2 separate regions of the Homo sapiens genome follow, and region 2 is linked to region 1. The links come from fine-mapping of genetic effects on gene expression. Tissue or cell type: whole blood. Region 1 holds a variant in brackets; the other region holds the start of a gene. Each region is shown on its reference strand, or each on the opposite one.

Region 1 (15,223 bases):
AAACAATAAAAGCCATGTATAACAAACCCACAGCCAATAACACACTGGGAAAAAGTTGAAAGAATTTCCCTTAAGAACTAGAACAAGACAAGTATGTCCATGTTCACCACTGCTATTCAGCACAGTACAGGAGGTCCTAGCCAGAGCAATCAGGCAAGAGAAAAAAATAAAAGCCATCAAAATGGGAAAAGAGGAAGTCAGATTATCTTTGTTTGCTGATGAAATGATCTTATATCTAGAAAACCCTAAAGACTCCTCTCCAAAAGACTGCTAGATTTGATAAATGAATTCAGTAAAGTTCCAGGATACAAAATCGACAAAAATCAGTAGCATTTCTATACAGCAATAATAATCATGCTAAGAACCAAATCAAAAGTCAATCCCATTTCCAATAGTTAAAAAAAAAAGAACAAAAAAAAAAACCCTAGGAATACATTTAAACAAGGAGTGATAGATGTCTACAAGGAAAACTACAAAATACTGATGAAAGAGAGTTAAGAGGACACAAATAAATGGGAAAACATTCCATTCTCACAGATTAGAAGAATCAATGTTGTTAAAATGACCACATTGCCCAAAGCAATCTACAGACTTAACAGAATTCCTATCAAAATAGCAATGACATTTTTCACAGAATTAGAAAAAAAAAATCCTAAAATTCATATGGAACTGAAAAGAACCCAAATAGCAAAAGCAGGCATCACATTACCTAACTCCACATTATACTATAAGTCTATAGTAATCAAACAGCATGGTACTGGTATAAACATAGACATATAGATCAACAGAACAGAATAGAAGACCCAGAAATAAAGCCACATACCTATAGCCAACTGATATTCGACAAAGTTGACAAAAACATACATCAGAGAAAGGACACCCTACTCAATAAACGGTGCTGGGAAAATTGTATAGCCACATGCAAAAGAATGAACTGGATTTATCTGTCATCATATACAAAAATTAAGATGAGTTAAAGACTGAAATGTATGATGCGAAAACTAAAAATTCTACAAGAAAACCTAGGAACAACTCTTCTGGACATTGGCCTACACAAAGAATTCAAGACTAAGATTTCAAAGCTAATGCACCAATTACAAATATAGACAAATGGGACTTAATTAAACAAATGCTTCTGTAGAGTAAAAGAAATAGACAGACAAGAACAGACAACCTGCAGAATGGGAGAAAATATTTGCAAACTGTGCATCTGACAAGGGACTAATATCTGGAATCTACAAGGAATTCAAACAAGTCAACAACAACAAAAAGCATTAGGAAGTGAGCAAAGAACATAGACATTTTTCAAAAGTAAACATAAAAATGCCCAAAAAGCATATGAAAAAATATTCAACATCACTAATCATCAGAGAAATGCAAATTTAAACCATGAGGTGCCATCTTATACCAGTCAGAATGGCTACTGTTAAAAAGTCAAAAAATAACAGATGTTGGCAAAGATGCAGAGAAAAGGGAACACTTATAAATGTTGGTAGAAATGTAAATTAGACAACTTCTATGGAAAACAGTATAGAGATTTCTCAAAGAATTAAAAATAGAACTACCCTTTGATCCAGCAATCCAACTACTGGGCATATACTCAAAGGAAAAGAATCATTTTATCAAAAAGATACATGCACTCATGTTTATCACAGCACTAGTCATGACAGATACCGAATCAACCTAAATAACCATCAATGGATGATTGGATAAAGAAAATGTGGTAAATATATATATGGAATACTATGTATCCATGAAAAAAATAATATAATGTCTTTTGCAGCTACATGTATGGATTTGGAGGCCATTATCTCAAGTAAAATAACAAAAACAGAAAGCAAAATACTGCATGTTCTCACTTCTAAATGAAAGATAAATAGTATGCACACATGGACATACAGATTGGAATAACAGGTATTAGAGACTTGGAAAGGTGGGAAGGTGGGAGGCGGGTAAGGGATGAAAAATTACCTAATGGGTACAATAAACACTATTCAGGTGATGGTTACACTAAAAGCCCAGACCTCAACACTACGCAATATACCCATGTAACAAAGCTGTATTTGTACCCCCTAAATCTATTATAAATAAATAAACAAGGTCACCATATAATGATAAAGGGATTCGTTCGGTAAGAAGATACAATTCGGGCCGGGCGCGGTGGCTCACGCCTGTAATCCCAGCACTTTGGGAGGCCGAGGCGGGTGGATCATGAGGTCAGGAGATCGAGACCATCCTGGCTAACAAGGTGAAACCCCGTCTCTACTAAAAATACAAAAAATTAGCCGGGCGCCTGTAGTCCCAGCTACTCGGGAGGCTGAGGCAGGAGAATGGCGTGAACCCGGGAAGCGGAGCTTGCAGCGGCCTGGGCGACAGAGCGAGACTCCGTCTCAAAAAAAAAAAAAAAAAAAAAAAAAAGAAGATACAATTCTAAATATATATGAACTTAACACCAGAACATCCAGTTATATATAGCAAATATTATTAGATCTGAAGGGAGAGATAGACTCCAATACAATAATAGTTGAAGACTTCAACACCCTACTCTCTATATTAGACAGATCGTCAAGACAGAAAATCATCAAAGGAACATTAGATTTAAATTGCACTTCAGATCAACGTACCTAAAAGACATGCATGGAATATTTTATCCAATAGCAACAGAATATACATTCTTCTCATCAACACATGGAACATTCTCTAGTATAGACCATATGCTAGGCCACGAAGCAAGTCTAAATTTAAAAAAAAAATCAAAATCATATCAAATACCTTTCAGATCACAATAGGATAAAACTAGAAATCAATAACAACAGGAACTTTGGAAACTATACAAATACATGGAAATTAAATAACATGCTTAACAGCCATTGGGTCAATGAAGAAGACAGAAGGAAATAAACGTCTTGAGACAAATGAGAATGGAAACACAACATATCAAAACCCATGGGATGTAGCAAAAGAAGTGCTAAGAGGGAATTTCATAGCAATAAATGCGTATATCAAGAAGTAGAAACATTTCAAATAATCAAGCTAAGGATGCCCCCTCAATAACTAGAAAAGCAAGAGCAGACCAAATCCAAAATTAGCGGAAGGAAAGAAACAATAAAGATCAGAGCAGAACTAAATGTAATAGAGACTTTAAAAAAAAATACAAAGGTCAATGGAATGAAAAGTTAGTTTTTTGAAAAGATAAACAAAATTGATAAATCACTAGCTAGACTAACCAAGAAAATAAGAGAGAGGATGTGAATTAGCAAAATCACAAACAAAAAGGGAGACATTACAACTGATACCACAGAAATACAAGAAATCATCAGAGACTTATAAAGAACTATATGCTAACAAATTAGAAAAGCTAGAGGAAATGGATAAATTCCTGGACACATACAATCTACTAAGAATAAATCAGGGCTGGGCACCGTGGCTCATGCCTGTAATCCCAGCACTTTGGGAGGCCAAGGTGGGCTTCCTGAGGTCAGGAGTTCGAGACCAGCCTGACCAACATGGAGAAACCCCATCTCTACTAAAAATACAAAAAAATTAGCCTGGTGTGATGGCGCATGCCTATAATCCCAGCTACTCGGGAGACTGAGGCAGGAGAATTGCTTGAGCACGGGAGGCGGAGGTTGCGGCGAGACGAGATCGCGCCACTACACTTCAGCCTGGGCAACAAGAGCGAAACTCCGTCTCAAAAAAAAAAAAAAAAAGAAAAGAAAAGAATGAATAAGGAAGAAAGAGAAAACCTGAATAGACCAATAACAAGTAATGGGCTGGGAGCAGTGGCTCACACCTGTAATCTCAGCACTTTGGGAGGCCGTAGGCAGGCGGATCACGAAGTCAGGAGATCGAGACCATCCTGGCTAACAAAGTGAAACCCCGTCTCTACTAAAAATACAAAAAATTAGCCAGGCATGGTGGCGGGTGCCTATACTCCCAGCTGCTCGGGAGGCTGACGCAGGAGAATGGCGTGAACCCGGGAGGCGGAGCTTGCAGTGAGGGGAGATCGCACCACTGCACTCCAGCCTGGGCGACAGAGTGAGACTCTGTCTCAAAAAAAAAAAAAAAAAAAAAAAAAAAAGGAATGAGATTGAATCAGTAATAAAAAGTCTCCCAACAAAGAAAAGCTCAGCACCGGATGTCTTTACTTCCAAATGCTATCAAACTTGTAAAGAAAAACTAACACATATTCTTCTCAAACTATTTCAGAAAATTCAAAGGAGGAAATTCTTCCTTACTCATTCTGTGAGGCCAGTATTACCCTGATACCAAAACCAGACAAGGACATAATGGAAATAGAAAACTACAGGCCAATACCCCTGATGAACACAGACACAAAAAAGCTTCAACAAAATACTAGCAAAGTGAATCCAACAGCACCATAAAAGGATAATACATCAGATGAAAGGATGGTTCCACCCATGCAAGTCAATAAATGTGATACCTCACAACAACAGAATGAAAGACAAAAACAATATGATCATTTCAAGAGACAGAGAAAAGGAATTTTATAAAATTCAACTTCTTTTCATGATTAAAACTCTTAACAAATTAGGCATAGAAGAAACATGCCTCAGCATAGTAAAGGTCATATCTGACAAATGCATAGCTAACATAATACTGAGTGGGGAGAAGCTGAAAGACCTGTAACAAGACATTGGATACCCAGTTCCACCACTTCATTTTTATTATTTATTTAGAGATAGGGTCATCACTTTTATTCAACATAGTACTGGAAGTCCTTGCCAGAGCAATCAGGCAAGAGAAATAAATAAATGTCATCTAAATTGGAATAGAGGAAGTCAAACTGTCCCTCTTTGTAGATAACATGGATATATGTGTGTGTGTGTATTATATATACATGGATATATATATGTAATACATATATATATATATAAAACCTAAAGACTCCACCAAAAACACTCCTAGAATAAATGAATTTAGTAAAATTGCAGGATACAAAATCAACATATAAAAATCAGCAGCATTTCTATGTGCCAATAATAAACTGGCTAAAAAAGAAAACAATCTCATTTACAATAGCTACAAAAAATAAAATACTTAGGAATAAATTAAACCAAGAAAGTGAAAGACGCTTACGAGGAAAACTTCAAAACACTGATGAAAGAATGTTAAGAGGACACAAACAAATGGAAAGATATCCCATGCTCATGACTCAGAAGAATTACTATTGTTAAAATGACCATACTACCCAAAGCAATCTACAGATTCAATGTAATCCCTATCAAAACACCAATGACATTCTTTATATAAATACAAAAAAATCCTAAAATTTGTATAGAACCATTAAAGAGCTCAAATAGCCATAGTGTTCCTGAGTAAAAAAAAACAAAGCTGGAGGCATCACATACCTGATTTCAAAATATATTAAAAAGCTGTAGTAACTAAAACAGCAAGATATTGGTATAAAAACAGACACATAAACCAATGAAACAGAATAGACACTCCAGGAATACATGCATGTATTTACAGCTAACTGATTTTCAACAAAGCCATTAAGAATATAAATTGGGGAAAGGCATCCTCTTCAATAATGGTACAGGGAAAACTGGATATCCAAGTACAGAAAAATGAAACTAGATCCCTATGTCTCACAATATACAAAAATCAACCCAAAATTGATGAAAGACTTAAACATAAGACCCAAAACTATGAAACTACTAGAAGAAAATAGGGAAAATGCTCTCAGACATTGGTCTAGGCAAAAAATTTGTGGCCATGACTTCAAAAGCACAGGCAACAAAAATAAAATAAACAAATGGGACTATATAAACTAAAAAGCTTCTATGCAGCAAAGGAAGCAATCAACAGAGTGAGAAGGACAACATGCTAAATAGGAGAAAATATTTGCAAACCATTCATCTCCCAAGGAACTAATATTCAGAATAAGCAAGGAACTCAAACAACTTTTTGTGTTTTTTATCTAACACAACACATATACCTGAGGAATTCAAACAACTTAACAGCAAAAAAACTAATAATCCCATGAAAAAGTGGGCAAAGGATCTGAGTAGGCATTTCTCAAAAGAAGACATACCTCTCTCACCCCTGGTTACAGGGAAAAAAAAAAGGACTTAAAAATGGACAACAGGTATATGGAAAAAATGTTCAACATAATTAATTATCAGGGAAATGCCAATCCAAGACGCAATGAGACAAAATCTTACCCTTGTTAGAATGGCTCTTATCAAAAAGGCAAGAAATAACAGATGCTTGTGAGGATGCGGAGAAAAGGGAACTCTATATTATACACTGTTGGTTGGAAAGTAAATTAGTACAGCCCTTGCAGAAGACAGAATGAAGTTTCCTCAACAAACTAACAATACAACTAACACAAAATCTAGTAATCTCACTCTTGGGTATTTATTCAAAGGAAAGGAAATCAGTATATCAAAGGGATACCCATATCCTCTTGTTTATGGCAGGACTATTCACAATAGCAACATATGAAATCAATCTAAATGTTCATTAATGGATGAATGAATAAAACATGTGAATAAAATTTGAAAAAAAGAAAATGTGGTATATATACTCAGTGGAATACTATTCAGCCACAAAAAAAGAATGATATCCTGTCATTTGCAGCAATGTGTATGGAACTAGAGGTCATTATTGTTAAATGAATTAAGCCAGACACAGAAAGACAAATATCACATGTTCTCATTCATATGTGGGAGCTAAAAAAGTTGATTTCAGTGATGTAGGGAATAGAATGATAGTTACTAGAGGACGGGAAGGGTATGTGTGTGGCAGGGTGCTGGTGGAGAGGTTGGTTAGTAGGTACGAAATACAGTTAGATAGAAAGAATAAGTTCTAGTGTTTGATAGCACAGTAGGGTGACTGCAGTTAACAACAATATATTCCATATTTCAGAATAACTGGAAAAGAAGATTTGAAATGTTCCCAAGTCAAATAAATAATAAATGTTTGAGGTCATAGATATCTTAAATACCCTGATTTGATCATTACACATTTTATTCATGTATCAAAATACCACATGTATTCCATAAACATGTACAAATATTATATATCAACAAAAAGACCACATATTACAAGTAGACTAGTATCAGAACAGAA[C/T]GAAGGAAATCTCACTAAGTGAGATTCTAACTAATGCATGGGCTTGTTTGTATCAACGAAAGGCATTTGGTACTTTTCTCCAAGTCCTTAAACACTTTAGAGATTCACCTTCACCCAGTATGCTTCTAATTCCTCCCCAGAATGGCTCCAAATTATATGTGACTAATTTAAAGACACATTAACCCTAGCAACTTTATTTTTATTTTTTTTAAGAGAAAAGGACTTACTTTGTCACCCAGACTGGTGTGCAGTGGCACGATCATAGCTCATTGCAGCCTTGAACACTTGTACTGGACTCAAGCAATCCTCCCACCTCAGTCTCCTGGGTAGCAAGAGCTACAAGTGGGTGCCACCACATGTAGCAAATTTTTAAATTTTTCTTGTAGAGACAGGGTCTTGCTATGTTGCCCAGGCTGGTCTTGAACTTCTGGCATCCAGTGATCCTCTGACTTTGGCCTCCCAAAGCACCGGGATTATAAATGTGAGCCACCACACCCAGCCAGCAATTATATTTTTTTACTTAAGCAAGTAGAGAGTAAGAAATTAAATTTAAAAAGCATCTTGAGCTTGAAATAAAACAAAGCTATCTCTTAAAGCTAATTAACATGATAATTCTATTCTATGATAATAATTTGAGTGTGAAATGATAGAATCAAGATTTCCACTTCTCCTCATACATTTCATTCAACAAGTATTTACTGAGTCCCTCTTGTGTGCCACAAACAACTCTAAAAAGTAGGGATATTCCAGTACAATAGAGAAAGATACAGTAGAGAATTCCCCTTTCTTGAAACTTATATTCCATTTCTTTTTGGTACATGAGAGACGAATGAGTTAAATATATATTGAATATTAGATGGTGATAAATGCTATGTGGAAATAATTACAAAGGAATTAGGGAAGGCTTGGTTAGTTTTAAATACAGAGGTTGGAGAAGTCTCACTGAGGCGACACTTTAGCAAAGAACTGAAGGAAGTGAATGAGTGAGCAGTGCAGATTACTGGGAGAGTGTTTTTGTTTTCAGCAGAGGGGGCAGCCAGTACAAAGGTCATGAGACAGGAGTGTGTATGGCTGCTATGGTCAAGGAACAACCTGGGGCCACTTGTAGCTGGAGCAGGATTAAGAAGAAACAGCATTGTATTACATTTGGGATTCGGTTTTTTTCAAAAAAGGAGAAATAGGAGAAGGTGAGCTCAGATGGTATTATGGAAACTAGTGTCAACCTTTTTTTTTTTTTTTTTTGAGACGGAGTCTCTCGCTGTGTTGTCAGGCTGGAGTGCAGTGGCGATCTTGGCTCACTGTAACCTCCGACTCCTGGGTTCAAGCGATTCTCCTGCCTCAGCCTCCCGAGTAGCTGGGATTACAGGCACGTCCCACCACACCTGGCTAATTTTTGTATTTTTAGTAGAGACGGGGTTTCACCATGTTGGCCAGGATGGTCTCGATCTCCTGACTTGTGATCTGCCTGCCTAGGCCTCCCAAAGTACTGGGATTACAGGTGTGAGCCACCACGCCCAGCCGTGTCAACCATTTTAAGAACTTTGCCTTTTACTTAGTGACATCACAGTACTTATAAATCCTCACTAACTAGTCAAGAGCAAACATAATACCATTTTGCTTATATTTACTGATCTACTAGTCTATTTTCTTATGTGTTAGAATGGTATCTTTATAATGTTCTGCTTAACATCACATACTAGGACACAGGACTTTTGATTCCTAATTTGGGACCTTTTCTCTTATGTCTTGTTGCTACTTTAAATAAATCAGTTCAAGGAAGGAAATTCTTTTCTGATTTTCAACACCGTAACTGACATGCTGTCTTTTCCCATTCACGATCTCTTTCCAAGTTTACTAAACAAGAGCTCAATGGTTCTAGACCCTCGTGTTGATTTGTTATCTAATCCTTATAACTTAAGAAATATTCCTTCTTGAGAAATAAAATTTGACCTCAAACTTAAAGGAGTGTTTTTTTCTCCTTTAAGCATTCTCATATGTATTATCTCTGGAAAATAAAAAAAAGAAACCATAATATAAAGAAATTGTTTTTTTATTTTTCTGAAGGACACTAAGCATTGTACTTTAGAAAAAAGCTTATTGGTAAAAGTTTTACCAAATGAATACACATACAATTTAAATTTTTTTTTCTTACTGAAAACTAGTATCTACCTCACTGTTAAGTTTTTCCCAAATGAGGAAAAAACTAATTACTTGTCAGAATTCTGGAAAGATAGAAGAGTAGGAAGCACCAGGAATTTGTCTCCCCTCCTAGATAACAATTGCGCTGGCACAATGTGTCCCATATAACTATTTTGGACTCTGGAGTCTATTGAAGACTTGCAACTTCCAGGGGAAGGCTTGAACAGTAAGATACAGTTAATTTCACCAATTTCAGATCTTAGCACAGCTACACATCCTCCACCCCTCAGCTGTGCTGTGTGGCAGAGCTCTGCACATATTCCTGGATCAATCTGGACATGGCCTGTGGGAGCCATGGTAGGCAAATAAGAACCCAAATAAGAATCTCTAACTATCAGAGATTTATGCTCTGATCACTGATTGTTGTTTCTGATCAAAGAGGTACAAAGAGGCAGGTGGCCATTGTTGTTGTACCTCCCATCATTGTTGTAAGCCCCTTCTGCTCTGGCTGAAGTAACTTCCAGGGGATTTAAAGGGACAGTGCCCTTCTCTCCTTTTATTTTTGTCTTTTCTCCCTTTTGGAAACTAGACATTAAAAACTACAATGTTTTTTTAAAAAACTACATATATGAGGAAATTAGAAGGTGAACATGACACACCCAGAGAAAGGCACAAGCTCAAAAATACTGAGAAGACCTTAAGTTGACACCTAAGACTGATCCTTGGCACAGAGACAGTCACATACACACACACACACACACACACACACACACACACACACACACACACACAGAGAATAGCAAACCCTGCAGAAGGGAGAATATCTAATTTCCACAGTTACATATTATTAGGTCCAAATGTCCAATTTACAACAAAGAAAATGACAAGCCAGACAAAGAAAAAGAAAAGTATAGCACCTTCAAAGAAAAAAAATCAACACAACTGTTCCCAAAAAAAGACCTGATGACAGATCTGCTAAACAGATCTATTAGACAAATACTTTTAAACAACTGAAGATGCTCAGGGAACTAAAAAAAGATGTGAAGAGACTCAAGAAAAAGATCTATGAACAAAATGGAAATATCCACGAAGATAAATCCTGAAAAGAAACCAAATAAAATTCTAGAACTGAAAAATAGAATAAATGAAATGAAAACTTTACTAGTAGGATTCAAGAATACATTTGAACAAACAGAGGAAAGACTCAGCAAACTTAAAGACAGGACAATGGAAATTATCAAGTCTGAGGAACAGAAAGAGAAAAACTTAAGGAAAGGTGAACAGAGCCTTAGGGACCTGTGGGACACTGTCAAACTGACCAACATATGCATTGTGGGAATACCTGAAGGAGCAGAGAGAGAAAAGAGCAGAGAGAAATAATGGCTGAAAACTTGCCAGATTTAACAAAAGACATGACTATAAACATTTAAGAATCATTCAAAAACTAAAAGTAAGACAAACTCAAAGAGACCAACACTGAGACACATTATAATCAAACTTTCAAAAGAAAAAGACAAAAAATAATCAGAGTAGCAAGAAAAAAAATGACCTGTCACAAACCAGGAATGTTCAATAAGATCAGCAGACTTCTCATCAGAAACCATGGAGGATGAAACACAGTGGGCCAACATATTCAAAGTGGTAAAAGAAAAAAACTGTCAACCAAAAATCTCATATACAGAAAAACTGTCCTTCAAAAAGTAAGGGAAGAGATGGGTACAGAGGTGCATGCCTCTAGTCTCAGCTACTCAGGAGGCTGGGGTAGGAGGATTGCTTGAGCCCAGGAGCTTGAGTTCAGCCTGGGCAACAAGTAAGATCCTGTCTCTTACCAAAAAAAGGCGAAGAAGAAATTAAGACATTCCCAGATAAACAAAAGCTGAGGAAGTTCATTATCATGAGACCTGCCCTGCAAGAAATACTCAAGGGAGTCCTGCAAGGTGAAGTGGGAGGATCCTAGACAGAAACTTGAAGCTGTATGAAGAAATCAAAATCTCAATAAAGGTAAATGCATGGACAATTATAAAAGCTAGTACTATTGTAATAATGGTTTGCAACTCCACTTTTTTGTTTTCTACATGATCGAAGAGACTAACACATTTTAAAAAACAATTATTAGTCTAAAAACTAGTACTGTAACTGGTTTGTAACTCCACGTTTTGTTTTATACATAATTTAAGAGACCAAATGTAGGAATTATTAGTTTACTATACAAAGCACAAATTAAGGATCCCTTATCTGAAATGCTTGGGACCAAAGTGTTGCAGATTTTTTTTTAAATTTTGGAATATTTGCATTATACTTACTGGTTGAACATCACTAATCCAAAAATCAATTGCATGTCATGTCAGTGCTCAAAAAGTTTCAGATGTTGGAGCATTTTAGATTTCAGATTTTTAGATTAGGAGCATTCAACCTGTATAAAGATGTAATTTTGTGACATCAATAACAAAATGGGTGGAAAAGACATTGCTGAAGGAGCAGTTATTGTATGTTATGAAGATAAGCTGGAATAAATTCAAATGAGAATGTGATAACATTAGGAAGTTAAATGTAGTCCCCATGGTAACTACTAAGAAAATAGTTATACATACAAAAGGAAATGAGGAAGGAATATAAATGTTTTGCTTCAAAAATCAACTAAAAACAAAAGAAGACGGTAGTATTAGTCTGTTTTCATGCTGCTGATAAAGACATATCCAAGACTGGGCAATTTACAAAAGAAAGAGGTTTATTGGACTTACAGTTCCATGTGGCTGGGAAGGCCTAACAATCACAGTGGAAGGTGAAAGGCACGTCTCACATGGCAGCAGACAAGAGAACAGAGAGCTTGTGCAGGGGAGCTCCTCTTTTTAAAGTCGTCAGATCTCATGAGACTTACTCACTATCACGAGAATAGCACAGGAAAGACTTGCCCCCATGATTCAGTTACCTCCCACTGGGTCCCTCCAAAAACACATGGGAATTCAAGATGATATTTGGGTAGGGACAGAGCCAAACTATATCATTTTGTCCCTGGCCCCTCCCAAATCTCATGTCTTCACATTTCAAAACCAATCATGCCTTCCCAACAGTCCCCCAAAGTCTTAACTCATTTCAGCATTAACGCAAAAGTCCACAATCCAAAGTCTCATCTGAGACAAGGCAAGACCCTTCCACCTATGAGCCTGTAAATCAAAAGCAAATTAGTTACTTCCTAGATACAATGGGGGTACAGGTGCTGGGTAAATACAGCCATTCCAAATGGGAGACATTGGCCAAACAAAGGGGCTATAGGCCCCACACAAATCTGAAACCCAGTGGGGCAGTCAAATCTTGAAGCTCCAAAATAATCTCCTTTGACTCCATATCTCACATCCAGGTCACTCTGATGCAAGAGGTGTACTCCCACAGCCTTGGGTAGCTCCACCCCTGGGGCTTTGTAGGATACAGCCCCTCCTGGCTGCTTTCGTGGGCTGGTGTTGAGTGTCTGCGGCTTTTCCAGGTGCACAGTGCACACTGTCAGTGGATCTACCATTGTGGGGTCTGGAGGACGGCAGCCAGCCCTCTTCTCACAGCTCCACTAGACGGTGCCCCAGTAGGGACTCTGTGTGGGGGCTCTGACCCCACATTTCCCTTCCACACTGCCCTAGCAGAGGTTCTCCATGAGGGCCCCACCCCTGCAGCAAACTTTAGCTTGGGCATCCAGGTGTTTCCATACATCTTCTGAAATCTAGACAGAGGTTCCCAAACCTCAGTTCTTGACTTCTGTGCACCCACAGGCTCAACACCACGTGGAAGCTGCCAAGGCTTGGGGCTTCCACCCTCTGAAGCAACAGCCTGAGCTGTACCTTGGCCCCTTTTAGTCAGGGCTGGAGCAGCTGGGACACAGGGCACCAAGTCCCTAGACTGCACACATCAGATGGATGCTGGGCTTGGCCCACAAAACCATTTTTTCCCCTTAAACCTCGGGCCTATGATGGGAGGTGCTGCCACAAAGGGCTCTGACATGCTGTGGAGACATTTTCCTCATTGTCTTGGGGACTAACATTCAGCTCCTCATTACCTATACAAATTTCTGCAGCCAGTTTGAATTTCTCCCCAGAAAATGGGATTTTCTTTTCTATTGCATTGTCAGGCTGCAACTTTTCCAAACTTTTATGCTCAGTTTCCCTTTTAAAACTGAATGCCTTTAACAGCACCCAAGTCACATATTGAATGCTTTGCTGCTTAGAAATTTATTCTGCCAGATACCCTAAGTCATCTCCCTGAAGTCCAAAGTTCCACACATCTCTATGGCAGGGGCAAAATGCCACCAGTCTCTTTGCTAAAACATAACAAGAGGAACCTTTGATCCAGTTCCCAACAAGTTCCTCATCTCCATCTGAGACCACTTCAGCCTGGATTTCATTGTCCGTATCACTATCAACATTTTGGTCAAAGCCATTCAACAAGTCTCTAGGAAGTTCCAAACTTTCTCACATTTTCCTGCCTTTTTCTGAGGCCTCCAAACTGTTCCAACCTCTGCCTGTTACCCTGTTCCAAAGTCACTTCCACATTTTCAGATATCTTTTCAGCAGCGCCCCACTCTACTGGTACCAATTTACTGTATTCGTCTGTTTTCATGCTGCCGAAAAAGACATACCCAAGGCTGGGCAATTTACAAAAGAAAGAAGTTTATTGGACTTACAGTTCCACATGGCTGGGAAGGCCACACAATCATGGTGGAAGGTGAAAGGCATATCTCACATGGCAGCAAAGAGACCACAGAGATTGTGCAGGGGAACTCCTCTTTTTAAAACCATCAGATCTCGTGAGACTTACTCATTGTCATAAGAATAGCACAGGGAAGACTTGCCCCCATGATTCAATTACTTCCCACTGGGTCCCTCCCACAACACGTGGGAATTCAAGATGAAATTTGGGTGAGGACACAGCCAAATCATATCAACAGTGATGCAGGAAACGAGGAACAAAAAAGCTGTAAGGCATATAGAAAACATATACCAGAATGACAAATGTCTCTCCTTATCAGTAATTACTTGAAATGTAAATCGATTAAACTGTCTAATCAATAGACAGAGATTGGCAGAATGAATAAAACTACATGCTGCCTATAAGATACTCATTTTAGATCCAAAGACAAAAATAGATTGAAATTGAAAGGATGGAAAAAGATATAGCATGCAAATAATAACCAGAGAGAGCAGAGGCCACTAATATTAGTGGCCACACTAATATTAGACAAAATAAACTTTAAGTCAAAAAAGATTACAAGACACAAAGAGGAACCTACTGACAGACCATCAAAATATATGAAGCAAAAATCAACAGAACTAAAGGGAGAAATAGACAGTTCTACAACAATAGTTGGAGACTTCAATACTCCACTCTCAACACCAACCAGATAAAGATACATAAGAAAATAGAAGATTTAATACAATAAACCAACTAGATCTAACAGACTTATTCAGAACACTCTACTCAAAAACAGCAATATATGTTTCTCAAGGGCACATGCAACATTTTCCAGAATGAACCACATGTTAGGCCACAAATTAAGTCTCAGTAAATTTAAAAAGACATATATCATATGAAGTGTCTTCTCCAACCACGGTGAGATAAAGCAGAAATAAAACTATAAAATTCATAAATTTGTGGAAATTAAACAACACACTCTTAAGCAACCAATGTTATCAAGGAAGAAATCACAAGAGAAATTAGAAAATATTTGGAGATGAATGAAGCTCAAGAAAAAACACACTGAAACTTATGGGACTTAGAAACAGCAGTGCTAAGGGGGAATTTACACCTATAAATGCTTACATTAAAAAAACAAAAAAGATCTCAAATCAACAATCCAATTTTGCAAATTAAGGAATGCGAGAAGAACAAATGAAATCAAAAGCTAGTGGAAGAAAGTAGATAATAAAGGTTAGACGGAGAGAAATGAAATCAAGAATAGAAAAATAGAGAAAAATCAATAAAACCAAAAGTTGGTTCTTTGAAA
Region 2 (15,223 bases), not on the chromosome of region 1:
GGGCGACAGAGCCAGACCATGTTAAAAAAAAAAAATGGAGAGCCTTCTCCCACCCTCAGCCCATGGGCTAGGCCCTCACCTCTCTTTGTCACTGAGCTGCTCCATTCTTGTGAAATAGGTGACAAATTTCTCAAGAGGCCGAAGCCTGTAATTCATGGCAGCCACTTGGAGCAGCTGCATTTCCTGCAGAACTCGGACCTCCTAGAGACAGAGGACAGGATGCTGACAGGGCCTGGGTGGAAGTTGCTGTGGGGGCCTTTGGCAGGCAGGGAGAAGGGGCTGGTCCCTGGGGCAGTTTTCTGAAGGGGTCCCATGCAGCGCCCCCAGCCTGTTCTCAGAGTTGGATATAAACAGCCCCTCCTGCAGGAATTGGTCTTTGATTCCAGTGCTTTTCCCATTTTCTCCTGGGATAGGTCCCCTCCTCCTGTGTGTGTCAAACACTCCCAGTAAGCCTAAGATGTAGAGGATGGAGCCAGGGAGTGTCCTGCCCAGGGTGGACTGTGACGTCCACATCCCCACCCTCATCCAACGTGAGTGCCCCAGCTGCTCACCTTGCTCCTCTTGTTGGTGTTGCCCTGGAAGGCAGACAGAGTCCATCAGAAAGGCCCCTGGCCCACAACCAGCCCCACCCCACCCCTTCCCATGCTGCACTACTGCCAGGGCCACCAGGGTCAGGGGATGTGCACACGACAGGACTTGGACCTGCCTCAGGCTCCGGGCTCTAGAGCAGGGGGAATGGGAGCTGAGGCCCAGGGACCTTCTGCCCCAACCCTCTGTGATGACAGACAGGGAAACTGAGGTCTCTCATAGAAAGAAAGCGCTCAGTGACCTTGGAACTGCCTGCCCTTGGAGAGGCTCAATTTCACCCTCCTATTACGGGACTACCCTAGGGAGAAGCTGAGCCCAGTTCAGCCCACACCTCAGCAGCTTTGCAGTCAGGCAGCTCTGCAGCTTCACCACTCAGGAATAGGGCCTGGTGGCTGCCATGGAGCCTCCATCACTCAGAGGTGATGAGATGGGCCTGACACCCCCACCCACAGGAGCAGCTGTGAGGCTCTTAGGAGAGGAGGTTTGCCAAGGGCTGAGATCTAAAGGCTCGGTCCAGGACCCTCTCCTCCCAAGCTTCAGGATCTTGGTTCCCAAGCACCCTGCCCCAGGCTCACTCACATCCAGGTCGTCCGGGATGGCCGAATCCAGCCTCTGTAACTCAGTCAGAAAATCCCCCAGGAAGGGGACCACACCCTGTGCCAAGGAGGGGTGGGGAGGTGGGAGGGGTAGTGGTGATGAGTATTGGCCCTCAGGTGCCTGCCCAAGGTCCTGTCCCATGAAATCCCATCAGCCCCTGTCTCCCAGAGCCCCCTCCTCAGGTCTCCCGGTTGGAGCAGCCAAAGACCCTCAGCTGCCTTTCCCAATTCTCTGCCTCCTGTATCCCAGCTGACCTCCAAGTCTAGCAAGCACTCCTTGTTAACCTCTATGGTGGGATTTTAACAAGTCACAAAGGCCTGTGGTCCCAGCTTTACCCTTCCCCACATCTAGTCTGAGTCCAGCTTTCCCAGACCCTTCCTCTGGTCTCTCAAATGAAGGTTTTCCAGGCCCAGTGGCCACAGGAGGACAGGGCTGGGGAGGAAGCCCCCGCTGTCTTGATATGGAGGCCTCCAGCTGGCGGGGAAGGGAGCCCTGTCCTCTGATCCCCTGCGGCCCGTCCATGCCACAGGCTCACTCACCTTCTTCTGCCTCCGCAGCCTCATCTGGACTCTCTGGGGGTTCCTCTCCTGGGTGGCCACCTTAAAGCTCCCCGCCTGCCAGGTGTCAGCGACAGGGACAGTGAGGCTCTCCTCCTCTCCCCCAGTTACACCCCAGCCACCCCGCACTTGGATCCCCAGGGAGTGGCGGGAGCCACCTGGCACCGTGCTCATACCACTGGCCCAGATCCACACTCCCTGTGTGTGTCACCCAGTCTTGCAGCCGGGCCTCCCTGAGACTGTTTCCTCTTCTGTAAAGAGTGATGCAAACCACAGCTACCTCACAGGGCCTCTGAGGGCTCAGTTTCCTGTAGCTGTTGCCGTTGTTCTCACCGTCATCCCTCTGAGGAAGAACCAGGCACGAGCACCCTCAAATTGCTTTCTTTTCTTGAACTTCATTTCTACCCTGTGAGGCCTGCACTACAGGCTCAGCATCCCTTCATTTTCCAGATGAGGAAACAGAGGCCCAGAGCGGGCAGTGGCTCCCCAGGGCCCCCAAAGAGAGGACGCCTCCTTCTGCTCCTGGAGGCTCCGTCTCGGCTGCCTTCAGCTCACATCCCAGCACCACCACCCATCAGGGTCGTGTTCTCTGGAGTCTTTGAGTGTCTAGGTCTCCAGCCACATACAGTCGTGATGGGAAAGGGACAGGGCATTTTAGGAGACCTGGTTAAGTGGCACCTGCCTATCCCAGCCCCACTGGAATCTCTGCCACGCAAACTGGGTTTGAGCCATGCCAAAGGCTTCGCCTCGCCAATGATCCCCCAGGGGAGTTCCGTGCACGGAACTCTCTCTTTCTCCACTGAGGAAGTAGCCTCCTGATGCGCCATCTCTGACTGCAATGGCAGGGTTTTCCAGAGTCCTGGGTGGGGTGACATGTTGCCTTCTCATTTGCATGGACGATTCTGAGATCTGGTCAGGGAGGATCCCCTAGCAATGTATGAATCCCCCAGATACTTGTCATGAGCATGCGTCGCTGCTAACCGGTGAGAATCCTCTGACATGACCGTTTTTGGGTGTCTGCAAAGGGCAGAGTGGGGAGTCCCAGCAAACAGCTACGTCTGTCCCCAGTATGCCCATTGGTACCCAAAGCTGGGCAGTTACTGGACTCCCTGCCACATGAGCTTCCTCTGTTGTTGTTCCCCCTCTCCCCCAGTGCAGGCCAAGGCCCCCTGCCCATGGAGGTGTGCTGCAGACAGCAGCAGCAGCAGCAGCAGCAGCAGCAGCAGCAGCAGAGGCCTGGCTTCCTGAGGAATTGCTGGCCGGTTTGAGGAAGGAAGGAAGTCCCACCTACCATGATCACCCTCCAGCCTGGAGGAAGCTCCATGCCAGCAGCATGGACCAGCATGGGAGCCAGAGCCCTGCTAATGCTGCAGCTCATCACCCCTGCTCAGCAGCCCAGCAGCCCAGCAGCCATTGCCACATCCCATTTCCAGGGCCTCCTGCCCCCATGCCCCCACGTGCCCATGGACCGACACACCACTCTTCCTGTTGGCCCAAGGTAGGCATGGAGGGAATTTTTCAAGTCCACTTTTAGTAGGTAAGTCAAAACCAAACAAAATAACCACTCGACACCTGGTCCAATGCCCTTCCAAACTCACTCTTTTCTCTGACCCTTAAACACTTGTCCTGCATCTCCCAGACTCCACTGTACCTTGATCAGTAGGTCCCTCTTCACTGCAGTGTCTTTTTTGCAGAGTTCTTTTAGCTCTTTCATGCTTTTGCTATGGGCAGAGGAAAGAAAGAAGGGTAAATTTGGGAATCAGGGGAGATTTGTGAGTTCCAGTCCCTTTTGTTTGAAAACCCAGTGAATCCCAGCTTACTGGGTGAGAGTTTTCAGTGGAGTCCTCTGATCACAGGGGCTCCAGAGGACCAGGGTGGGACCTCTCATGCTCCTCCCCTGGGCCCCATCTCCACTTCACATGAGCCACTGCGTGTTTACAGTTAGCTTTCAGCTGGACACAGAGTTCCACTGCTGGGTACAAACACCTGAAAGCCTCCAGTTGGCTCCAGTCTGTTCCTGATGGTTAAAAAACCTTAGTCCTGAGTTGGAAATCCTTGCCTAGGAGTCCAGGGCAGCTTAGTGACCACAGCCACCGGCCCATCCCTGCCTCCAGTGTCCCTGGACTCCAAGAACCTTTCAGAGTCATTGAGGGCACATGGGGGGAGACCTGTGAGTCCCTAGGTCAACCCTGATGCTGCCATGGAGAGAGCCCTCCTCACCTGGACACTCCTGCCCACGTCTTGTGTAGCTGACCTATTGGGTTGCTGCACAGAGCAGAGACGATGACGTGCACCGAGGAGAAGTTGTTGAGGCTTAGGCACTCCTGGAGAGGGAAGAATGAGCTGTGCGGTTCAGAGTTGGAGCTTGGCCCACTACAGCCTCAGCCCCCTCTGCTGAGATCTCCCCTCCTGGATGAAGCAGAGGCCTGGGGAGCCTCAGGAGGGCAGACCTGGGGCCGAGTGGATGTCACTCATCTAGGAGGATTTTAGTTCAACCCAAGGAAGACCCCAGGTCGGAAGTGAGCAGCCACCACTGGGCCGTGGGAGTCAAGGTGAGTGAAGCTCTGGCAAGAAGAGCCTAGGGGATGTGCAGGGTCCAGGCCAGAGATACAGATGCCGATCCTGAAAGCCGATGGAGGAGAAGAGGAAGTTCCCCATTTTTAAAGAGGGAATCCCCAGGCCCAACCATAGCTTACCCTGGCCACCTTGATCCAGTGCTCCACCACCCTGGCCCTGTCCCGGGCCCTCATGCTGTGGTCCCCGAGGCAGGAGGTGGTGATGCAGTTGGTGAGCCTGTTGAAGTGTGCGATGGTGGCACGAACTGTGGGTGCCATGTGCTCATTCCCCTTCAGATGTCCTTGGCCCCAGATGCAGCCCAAGCATTCGTGGAGCACCACCTTCTTGAACAGCTCCTTTGGGGGAGGAGGAGAGTGTCACGGACACAGCACACTGCAGCTCAGAGTCACCCACAGTCCCAGGCAGGGACTGAGCTCACAGTCATCCACGGTCTCTGGCAGGAACCAAGCTGGAGCTCAGAAAGCTTTAAAATGGGCTCCAGACTTGTGGGAGTCCCTGGGTTTGGTTTTCTGCCCCCGAGGGACCTGAATGCATCATGGCCTAGAACCCAACAAGGGTGGGAAGAGAGAGTGACATTTTCTCCCAGGCCATCCACACTCTAAGAACTAGAAGGTGGCTCAGGCCTGCCCATCCTGAGGCCTCGTCTTCCTCCCATCCCAATCAGCCCTCTACTACTCCTCTCCGTACCGGTGCACTTTCCTTGTGGCAGCTGCAACTATGGGCTCTGTTTGGGTGTCTACCATAGAATCCAGTATGCATCAGGTACCTAATAAGTGCTGAGGGTAGTGAGGCTCCTGAGCAGCTGGGTGAGTGACCCATGGCCCTGCCTGCCCCACAGTGAGCACCTGCCCTGCCCTGCTTTCTGTCCATCTCCTGTCACTCAGTCTGCACAGTCACTCTGTGCAGCTGGCGCTGGTGATGTCCCATCTCTGCCGTCCACATGCAGACAGGGAAGGCTTGTGGGTGAGGAAACTCATCCAGATCCCACGGTTGGTAAGAAGTGGGGCTGAAATTGGACCGAGGGCATTGGCTGCTCCTCAGGGAGAGGCTGGTCTGAGACAGCTGGTGCCAGAGACACAGCCTGCAAAGCTCAGCTGCTCACCGCATCCATGAGGGTCAGCTGCTCTGCCAGCAGCCTGGGAGGGAAGGTCGTCATGTCAGGCAGCTCCTCACTGGGTTGGTTCTTTACAGACCCACGACAGGGACAGGAGGACTCTGGGGCTGACTGTGGCTCCAGCACTGTCCCTGGAGGGGGCCCTTCCCCTGGTGCTGGTGCTGGCCCTGGTGCTGAATGTAGATATCCTGGTGGACCCAGGGCTGCAGGTGACTCTGGCTCCAGAGCAGGCCCCAGGTCCGCCAGCAGTGGTGGTGCTGGCTCCAGGGCCGGCATTGTTAATGCGTGTTGCCCAGGACGTGGAGCAGGATCTGGAAAAGGAGAAAAGGTCACCACACCAGTCATTTTTCACTGGGTTTTCCAAGCACAGAAATGACCGGGTGGAATTTAAGGGAATTGTAGCCCCAAAACACCACCCCCGGAAAGTCTTGCAGACTGCAAGCCCCCTCACCATCTGGCTTGGCCTCGTTGGGCTCCGGAAGCACCAACTGGCCTAGGACAATTTCCTGATGGTCCTCCAAGCCCAGTCCAGGCCAGGAGAGGTTCCTGAAGGCCAGCTTTATCCGGAAAGATGACCGTTGCGGGGGCTGATAGTAAACTGAAGTGTTTTCGGGGGGCCAGTTGAACAAAATGGAGGTGATGGTGCTGGTGATGGAGTAGACAGCTGAGTCAGAGGCCTGGCCTTCTCCCACACAACCCTCCAGGGCACCCCTGCGTGGTTCTGGGTCCCTGGCCTGTTGCTGCCAGTGTGGAGGACAGCCCCACCCTACCGTAAGCCATCAGTGCTGTCCTGGAAGGGGCAGACCTGGCCATACAGCAGGGCTGTACAGACCCTCGTGCGCCCTGGCGTCCCACAGACATTCTCTTCCCAAAGGCCCTGGAGCACAGCACTGTACACCTGGGCACTCAAGACTGCAGCTGCAGGCAGATTTGTGAGCAGCTTCCTCATCAAAGCTCCAGATCTGGGTCCCCTGGTCCTGGGGTTAGGAGGGAAGGGGCAGATGTCGGGGGGAGGAGGACAGGGAGAGCTGGGAAGCCACGGTGCTGAGGGGGATGGGTCTCTCAGTGGCCAGCTGTGACCCCAGCCTCCCCTCTGCTTTGCAGGGGACCTAAGTCTCCATTTACAGAACTCACTATTTGCCTCTTGTGGGGGAAGTCCCCAGATGTCAGCCTTCTCGTGGGAATTATAAGAAGTATGAGCCCCAGAGCTCCTTTAGTCTCTCCCCAGCCAGAGTCCACATATTTTCCCCCATGTTTTGTGGGTGAAAAGGCCCTTCAGAACCCTAAATCCACCCAGTTTATATTTGTTGCTGGGCTGCGTCATTCTAGTCAGAATCTGGGAGGATGCCACCATACGTAGAGGAGGCCATGAGGGTCTCACCTGTAACATTCTGTAGATATGACTTGTTTATTCTGTCTACTGTGAGTGCCTGACTCTGAGTAGAATCAAGGCCGGGGGATTGTCATCTGCTTTGTTTATGAAATTATGCCAAGCCCCAAGAAGAGCGATGCACAAATGAGGTGTTTTGAATGTATGTGTTGAATGAGTGAACCCCAACCTTTGGAGAACCCCAGTGAGCCTCTCCAGATGTCTGAGTGGGCCTGTGGCTCCTTTTTCAGCACCAAGGGACCCCTCTTCTGTCTGTGTCAAGGAGAAAGACCAGCCAGAAGGAATCTCAGACATCCTTTACCAGTGCCATCGCAGACTTGGTTTCTATGTGTTTTTCCAAACAGTGAGTGATACAGGCCATTGAGGCAGAATGCTGAGAGCTGCTTCAAGTGAGGGGGAAGAGAAAAGTAACAAACATGAATCACAGCACCCCCAGCAGATTTTCCAGAGTTTTAGGCTCTAGGGACCCCTTTGTTTGCTGTGTCTTAGATCATTGAGTCCCTACAAGAACCCTGTGAGGTTCGTCTTCTCACTACTCCCTGTTCCAGAGGAGCCAACCGAGGCTCCGAGAGGTGCATCTTCAAGACAGAGCCAGTAGGGGACAGAGGCACCTCTGTGTCTTGGAGGGGGATGGACACTCACCTTCTAACCAGTAGTTCCAAAAAGTGTGGCACAGTGATAAAGTCCCAGGAGGGGCCCAGGCAGGTGGCATAGGAGGAGATGGGTTTAGTTAGAAAGGCTGGAACCAGGGACTCCCAACAGCTTCTCCCCAGTGCCGGGCTGGAAAGTTAGCATCCTGCAGATCTCATTTTCATACTAGGGGGACAAGGAGGGACATGGGAGTCAGTGGTAACACCATGGACCACCAGAGGATCGGGATCTGGAACTCACACCAAGAAGCACCAACCCTTCAGGGACTTGTGCATATGGAGAACCTGGGTGCCCATGGTGAAAAGCGTTCTAGGCTTTCAAAGTAACATTGCATGTGAGGATGGAGAATGATAAAACGATTCCTGCCTTCAAGGCATCGTCCCGGTGTTTGTCAGCTGTGGGGCAACAGCACCCTCTGTGTCAGCAACCTGCATGAAGAGCATCATCCCTGCAAGTCCTCAAGGCCTGGGGAGGCCTCATCCCCTCCTCATTTCAGCAACAGCACACAGGACAATACGCTCTAGAAGAACTCTTTGACTTAAAGGTATATGATTGTTTTTGTTCCTTTAACATGAACGTGAGTCTGGAGAAACAGCTACGGCCATCCCAGCCCTGGCCAAGGGGAAAATGCCGGAAGACTCCAGGGTGGGAGGAAGCGCGTCCCAAGGCCCAGGATCTGCGAGGCGACTTGGGGAAAACGCAGGCAGGTATTGAACCCGTGAAAGGTTACGCAAATGTATGTTTGAAAGTGGAAATGAAACAAGGATTTTCTCTGCCACACAGACAGCAGGTTGGCGAAAAGTTAAAAGCGTGTTAGTATTCAGGGGAGGCTGCGTTCAGAGAAGCAGCTACCTTCAGAGGCTGCTGGTGACCGTGTGACCAGCTGGAGCCCTTTTGGAAAGTCAACTAGCTAGAGCTGTTGAAAGTTGATATCTGCATATCCTTTCACCCAGATATCCCTTTCCTGGGTGTCTGTCTGCTGCAGGGGATTTGTTTATTTTATGGGTTGAATTGTGTCCCCTTCCCCAAATGTAACTGTTTCTATTCTCAACCCCAGAGACTCAGAATGTGACTGTGTCTGGACACAGAGTACTCCAAGAGGTAATTCAGGTGAAGTGAGTTCATTAGGGTGGCCCCTAATTTAACATGCCTGGGGTTCTTACAAGGAGAGGGGGTCAGCGCACAGAGAAGTTCAAGAGAAGACCCTGTGCTGACTGAGATAGAAGTCCGCCATCTCCAAGGCAAGGAGAGAGGCCCAGAGAAACCACCCCAGGCTGACAGTTTGACGTTGGACTTCCAGTCTCCAGAATTGTGAGGAACCAGATTTCTGTGGTTAAGCCCTTCAGTCAGGGTGCCGTGTTATGGCAGCCCTGGCAAACTGCTCCAGCCTATTAGGACACGCATAGGATTATGCTCCTTGTAGAAAGGCTGCCTCGAAAGGGAATTTTATCATGACAGGCTCCACCAGCACTGAGAGGCTGACCCGCTGTGGAAAATGGCCTCCCTTAAGGAATGTTACAATGACATGCGAGGGTACAACTCCTGCCTGATGGGGCTGCAGGGATGAGTTCTGTGAGATGACACTTTAAAGACTAATGCATAGAGTCGCTTCACCTTCTTTTGTTGTAATCAATGCACCCCCCCCACCCCCACCCCTTGTTTGTGCAAAAGTGTTGGATTTTAAGTCCTGGAGGAGGTCTGGCAGGGCAGCGGAGCTGCCTGCCTGTTGCCGGAGATCCACTTAGGGTGGGGAGTTAAAATGATAACAGTGTGAGTATTTTGCTGCAATGTTACCATTGTACTCAATTCTTAAAGCAACATGCCGAGATACTCCTGGCATAGCCTAAAGTGAAAACAGAAGGATTTTCTCTGGTCTTCCTCTGATAGGTGAAAGGGACTTTGCCTGTAACCAAGTTGCCACTGGGGACTAATGGCAGCCAGATTCCTTTGGGAGAGGACAGTGGGTCACTCAAGTGGGAACGCCCTAGGATGGAGCTTAGGGAGTCCCCATATTCGTGTCTGAGTCCTGGGCCCACCTTGGTTTTCACAAGTCCTGTCTGTGGAGACCCTTCTGTGCCCAATCTCACCGCAGACCGGCACTGGACGTGGTTGGTGGTGTGGTGCACGTGCCCTTTGAAGAATATGGAGAAATTGAATCCATCCAACAGCTCTTGTTTGGTCTGTTGTGTGGAGCTCTGCAAAGAGAGTGCCCGAGAGCCGGGCCAAGAGGTGTCAGTGGCCTGTCTGGCTGACCCCACAGTGGGACACCCCCATTAGAACTCATCCCTGGCACCCCCTTCCCCAACAGGATTTGGCACATAGGAGCATCTGCATAGACCTCCAGCCAGAGAAGCCTGAGGTCTCCGGCAGATGACAGCTTGAGGACTTGGGATTCAGATCTGAGCAGACAAACTGTGTCCTTGACACTCACCTTCCCATCCTGCCAGGCACTGCCTGGGCTGTGAACCTGACATACCTACCAGGCTCCAAACACCTGACAACCTACCTGCTCCTATCCAGGGAGGGCCCCTCATCTCCTGTTTCCCCCAAACAAGTGGGGAGGGGCCTGAGGCTGCCCTGATGGGCACAGCTGAGGCCTAGCCTGGATGGGCCTGCCCTGGGCCCTGTGTTACCTGTGGGTGCCTTCTGGCAAAGGGCCAGAGGCGTCGAGGGTGAGGGTTGAACCAATGTCTATATTCTCGGGAAAGACTCTCATTTTGGCCTCTTGTGCGACGAGGAGGTCGGCAGCATGTCGGGATACAGCAGGAGAACATGTTGTTCTCTCGAGCATCGCCTACGAAGTGAGCTGGAAATGGGGCTGTCTCTAGAATGTGGGTGCCTAGTTACCAGAATTGTAAGTTCTGTTGGGGGTCTGTCGGCAAGGAAGTGAGGTCACATCTTGTAGGTTCCATCCTGTAAGCTCCTCCTTTCCATAAGTCCTACTCAAAGGCCCCTCTGGGCTTCTGACCGCTCACCCTCCCCCGTCAACTCCTTACGTAGTCACCATTATGAAAAAGTGTGCCCCTTCAGCACCTTGGGAAGACCTGGATATAACCAGGGTCCCAGGTTTGAGGAGACAGTGCTGGGTCAAACAGCCTTTATTTTAGCAGTTGTGAGACCCTAGAGAACTCCTTTGGTGTTTTGGGGTCTCCCCAGCATGCACAATGGGGGTTATGCTAGCATCTCTTTCCTAGGGAACTCATGAGGTTATGTTTGAGATAAATATTTAAAAACTCATGGTGTGGTGTTCCCTGTGGATATTGCACACACTTAGAAATGGAACAAATACAAGAAGGGGTGAGAGGTAACGTCTAATGCAACTCCAGTGGGCCTGGGGTCCACAGTGTGATCTCGGGAAAAGACACTTTTGCTCTGGGCCTCATCTTTCATGCTGCACCAGTAGAGGTTGAGATTAAATGAAATTCAGACATCCTCCTCCTATGACATTGCACCTTCCAGTGCCTTCCCATTTTATTTAGACCCAGACCCTGTGCCTCATCTCAGCCTAGGGTGGGCAGCGTCCACAGAGACAGCACTGAGGGGTTAGTGACTCCCTTCTGAATGATGGAATATGACACAGATGATGGAATAGCACTTCTGGGCTAGTTCAGGCTGTTACAGCAAAGAAAGAGCTGTAACGGCCTGGGGAGCTCATCAAAAACAGAACTGTATTTCTCCCTGTTCTGGAGGCTGGAAGTTGGATATCAGAGTAGCAGCGTGGTCGGGCTTAGTGGTGACACTGCCGCCCCATTCATTGAGCTTTTATAGGTGCTGTCCTTTCCTTGGAGGACGCCTCAACTTTAGGAGCATGGGTAGACCTCCATTCAAAGCCCAGCTCCCCCTTGTAGCTTGGTGATCGTGAGGAAGTCATAGAACATCCCTGTGCCTGTTTTCTCCTCTGAGAAATGGCGTTAGTGAGAATTGTTTCCCTTTTTAATCACAGAAAATAAAGCATGCGAAGAAGTTAACTTGGTGCCATTGGGCAGAGGGTGAGAGCCCAGCAAACCGGAGAGATCAGCTGCCCACATCAGTGGCGAGGAGTGCGGAGAGTGGGTGAGGCTGGGGCAGGAAGCAGGCCAGCCTGCCAGAGCCCAGGAACAGGTGAAAGGCAAGAGTGAGCTCCTCACCCTGAATTCTCAGGGTTCACAGGCATGCAGGGGCTGTGGGGAGTACAATCATCAGGGCTGCTCTCGTTCCCCTGGTTCCCTCCATATCTGACGTGGTCCCAGGGCCCCTCTCCCTGTGTTTCCTCTCTGCCCTACTTTCTTTCTGGCTGCCCTCCCAGGACTCATTTTTGGCCCTGGTAAGGTGGAGTCTTGAGGTAACTATAGGCCTATTAATAACTCCTCTGATGTTCAACCTGCCATTTGTTGAGACCTCTGAGCTTAGTCAGAAATCTGCTCCTGCTGGGACCTGAGAGAGGGCTGGAGGGAGCTGACAGTGCAATGGCAGTTTTCCCTGGGGCAGCCACTCCAGGGTCTATTGGCAGGTATCTGCCGAACTGGAGCTTTCTTTTGGGTGTCTGGTGTTCTGAGGTGTGATTTTCCCTCTGAAGATAGGCTGAGCCCCAGGTGGGTGCCTTAGCCTCAGAAATGGGTCCCCCTGAGCTGGGAGCTGTGCTCTACCCTCAGTGTCCTAGGACACCTCACACCTGGCCCTGCCCATTCTGGCTTCCGAAGCCCACAGAGAGGGTCTGTAGAAATTGCTAGATACAAAAGGACTACAAATAAGTCATAGGAAGTGTATTTACATAACGCAGTGGTTTTCAGCCATTACTATATGTTTACTTCAGCAAAGGCAAAATTTAAGAATGTTAATACCCTGTGTCACCCTGCAGAGATTTGGATTTATTTGATGGGGCAGGAGACAGGCATCTTTGGTTTTGTTTTGTTTTGTTTGTTTCTTTTTTGAAAGCGGGACTTTGCAGTGTTGCCCAGGCCATAGTGCAGTGGCATGATCATGGGCACTGCACCCTTGATCTCCCAGGCTCAAGGAATCCTCCCTTCTCTGCCTCTCAAGTAGCTGGGACTATGGGCATGCACCACCATGCCATGCTAATTTTTGTGTTTTTTGTAGAGGTGGGGTCTCACTGTTCCACCCAGGCTGGTCTTAAAAGTCCTAGCCTCAAGCTGTCCTCCTGCCTCAGCCTCCCACAATGCTGAGTTGACAGATGTGAGCCACCATGTCTGGCCTGTTCCTTTGAAGAGCTCCCTTAGTGTTTCTAATGGGCATCCAAGCAAAGAAGATTTTGCTGGCAGAAGGCTCGTGGAACCCTACTGAGGCCGCATCTTCTTCACAGCCAGCAGATCATTCCCTGAAGTATCTGCTTAGCAGTGCACAGGCTATTTATATCCTGGGCTTTGGGTAGCTGTTGGGTTTGGGGACTGGCTGGCGCATGAGTATTGGCTCTGGGATCTGTCACAGCCTGGTCTTGTGGGACACCCAGTCTAGGATCCTCCTTCCCAGACCACCATTGTTCCTCTCACTGCCCCTATGGCAGGAGACCAAAGCCATGACCCCATGGTCAAAGGCATCCATGTGCAGGACTGAAGTTGAGTGACTCATGTGGGGAGGGGCGGGGCACAGCTGCTTGCTGGAAGGGTGTTGGGAAGTATTGGTCCATCAGCTGTCATGTCCACCTTTTCCTGCTGAATCCCAGCGATCCTCAGTGGTCTGAGAAGGGTGTGACACCTGGGTTCTTGGCTGGCTGAGCTGGTGCTTTTGCAGCCTCTTTGGGGCTCTTGTATGTGAGGTCTCACCTGAGTTGCTTCAGGAAACCTTTGACCCTCAGGCTACCTCCTGCTTAAGAGCAGAGCCTTTGTGTGGAGATCTGGCTGGCCTCTCTAGCATCCAGCCTGTCCTGTCCTGTTATGTCTCGGTTTGAGGTTGTGCTGAGGGGTCTCTTCCCATAGAGGAGGCAAGGCCAGTCGTGTGGGTCAGAGTGAAGCATGGCGATCCCAGCTGGCTGTGCCCGGCCTTTGACTGGAGGAGTCTGAGAATGACCAAGTCTGGGGAGCTGCCCTTCCTGGGAAACAGCATGTCTCCTCCCCTATTGTGGAGTTTCTGGATGTGATCCAGAGTGTGCTGGGCCTCTGTAGCATGTGCTGGGTGTAGCTGTGTGATTCAGGGTGGGAGGTGCAGGGGATCATCTGCTCTGAGCCAGATAAGGCCTGGACAGGACTGGCGGGCAGCCCTCGAAGCCAGGTTTGATGGGAGAGTAGGCACGGGTAGGGAGGGGACAGGGTCACCGGGGCTGTGTGTCACCTGTTCTTGCTGCTTTGTCTGCCCTGGGAGTGAGAACAGAGGTGGGCTGCTGTGGACCCACTTTGGCTTCCTGCAAGCAGGTGTTCATGTGGGGAGCAAGGCGGTTGGGTGGGGGACAAAGCTGGTCTCTGAGGTGTTGAGTGGTTCTTTGTCTGTCATTGTCCTTTTTCTCTCTGCCTTCCCCAACAGCTCTGCTGTAGCAGCCCATTGACCAAGTAGGTCACTCAGAGCATCCTGGTCCTACACATAAGCGTTAAGGCCCCTGAAGGGCCAGAGAAGGCTTAGGAGTTTCTCAAGAGTGAGCCCAGGGTGGGAGGGGGCCAGAGTCACTGAGAACAGCCCATTTGAAAAGTCAGGCAGAGGGATCCTGAGCCCTGAATATGCCTGCCTGGCCTGCGGTAACCATGCCAGCAGGGTCAGGGCATTTGGCCAATTGCTGTCTTGGTCGAGGCAGGAACATCTTGCTTCCCCAGCCCCTGTCTTTTTGTCTCCAGTATCCTTGGAGCAGCTGCAGGGTGGGTAGTGGGGTGTCTCTCCCAGCTGCTTGAAGAGATGAGCCTCCACCCGGCTGCCTCTGCCAGGGGAAACGAGTAATGACTGCAGCAGGGAGAAAAGCGAGCCCAGCCCCTTTTAGAATCAACCCTGCTGCTCCGATTCTAATTTTCAGTTCAGATTTTGCAGGCACGAGTGTGGGTCCCTGAGTACCTGCCCTTTGAATTCTTTTGGTGAGGACTGAGCATTCCCCCAGGAGCTTCTCATCGAACCCCAAAAACACGGCCCCCAATTCACCACCTCATCCCTTCCCAGGACCTGCTGAAGCTCACACCCGTGGACCACCCAGACTGCCTGCCGCTACAGGATGCCCTCCGCATCTCCCAGGACTTCTTTCCGGCATCAGTGTGGACATTGACCCCACTGGACTGCAGTCACAGTGGACTCCCAAGGGGCAGGTGAGCTCATGGCACAGCAAGGCCTCACGCTCAGGTTGAGGAGCCCAGAGTGGACCAGATCCCCAGTCCCTTCTCTGATGGCACAGGCATCTCTCTGTGCCCCTTGTCTCTGCAACCCTGATTCCCCATTCCCAGCCAAGGAGAGGTCTTCGATCCCTGGTCATGCTGATTTGATTCCCTGTGGCATTGTGGGCCCTAGGCTGAGAGCTTTAAGCCCAGTCTCTCAATAATCCTAAGAATCCAGTGAGCCAGAAGAGGGCACAGGACCAGAGAGTCTCTCCAGGTACGCCACACAGTCTTTGAGCTGTGTCAGAGCTGGATTGTTTACCTGGGGCTGGCTGTTTGGAGGCCCCAGGCATTGTCCCCCACACCAGGGAAGTTGGCCTGTGGGTAACTCGTTCTTGAATGCAGACACCTGCCTATGCCATCAGGGTGACCCAGGAGGGTGAGGGAGCAGGACATCTCAGCCACTTTAGATTGACTTGCATGAGCAAGAGCCAGGAAGGGAGCCCCACAGAGGGAAAGGCTGGTATTA

The links.
Region 2: it holds the start of RGL4, and the variant in region 1 is fine-mapped to the expression of RGL4 in whole blood (TOPMed, PIP 0.99).

Annotation. Positions count from the first base shown.
Region 1 is chr6:143,914,024-143,929,246 of GRCh38, reverse strand. All of the region lies in intron 6 of ZC2HC1B (zinc finger C2HC-type containing 1B), which reads right to left. Among named protein-coding and RNA genes, the nearest start is that of ZC2HC1B, 57 kb to the right of the region's middle. The variant C/T (reference allele first, on the strand shown) is at 7,099.
Region 2 is chr22:23,683,190-23,698,412 of GRCh38, reverse strand. It overlaps RGL4 (ral guanine nucleotide dissociation stimulator like 4), which reads right to left and starts at 7,400. Exons shown (of 11, transcript NM_153615.2): 1 at 6,204-7,400; 2 at 5,885-6,078; 3 at 5,422-5,744; 4 at 4,439-4,654; 5 at 3,963-4,066; 6 at 3,394-3,463; 7 at 1,725-1,799; 8 at 1,168-1,242; 9 at 552-575; 10 at 80-201. The coding sequence starts at 6,382. It also overlaps the pseudogene GUSBP11. RefSeq lists enhancers at 1,679-1,758, 2,493-2,993 and a silencer at 12,957-13,251.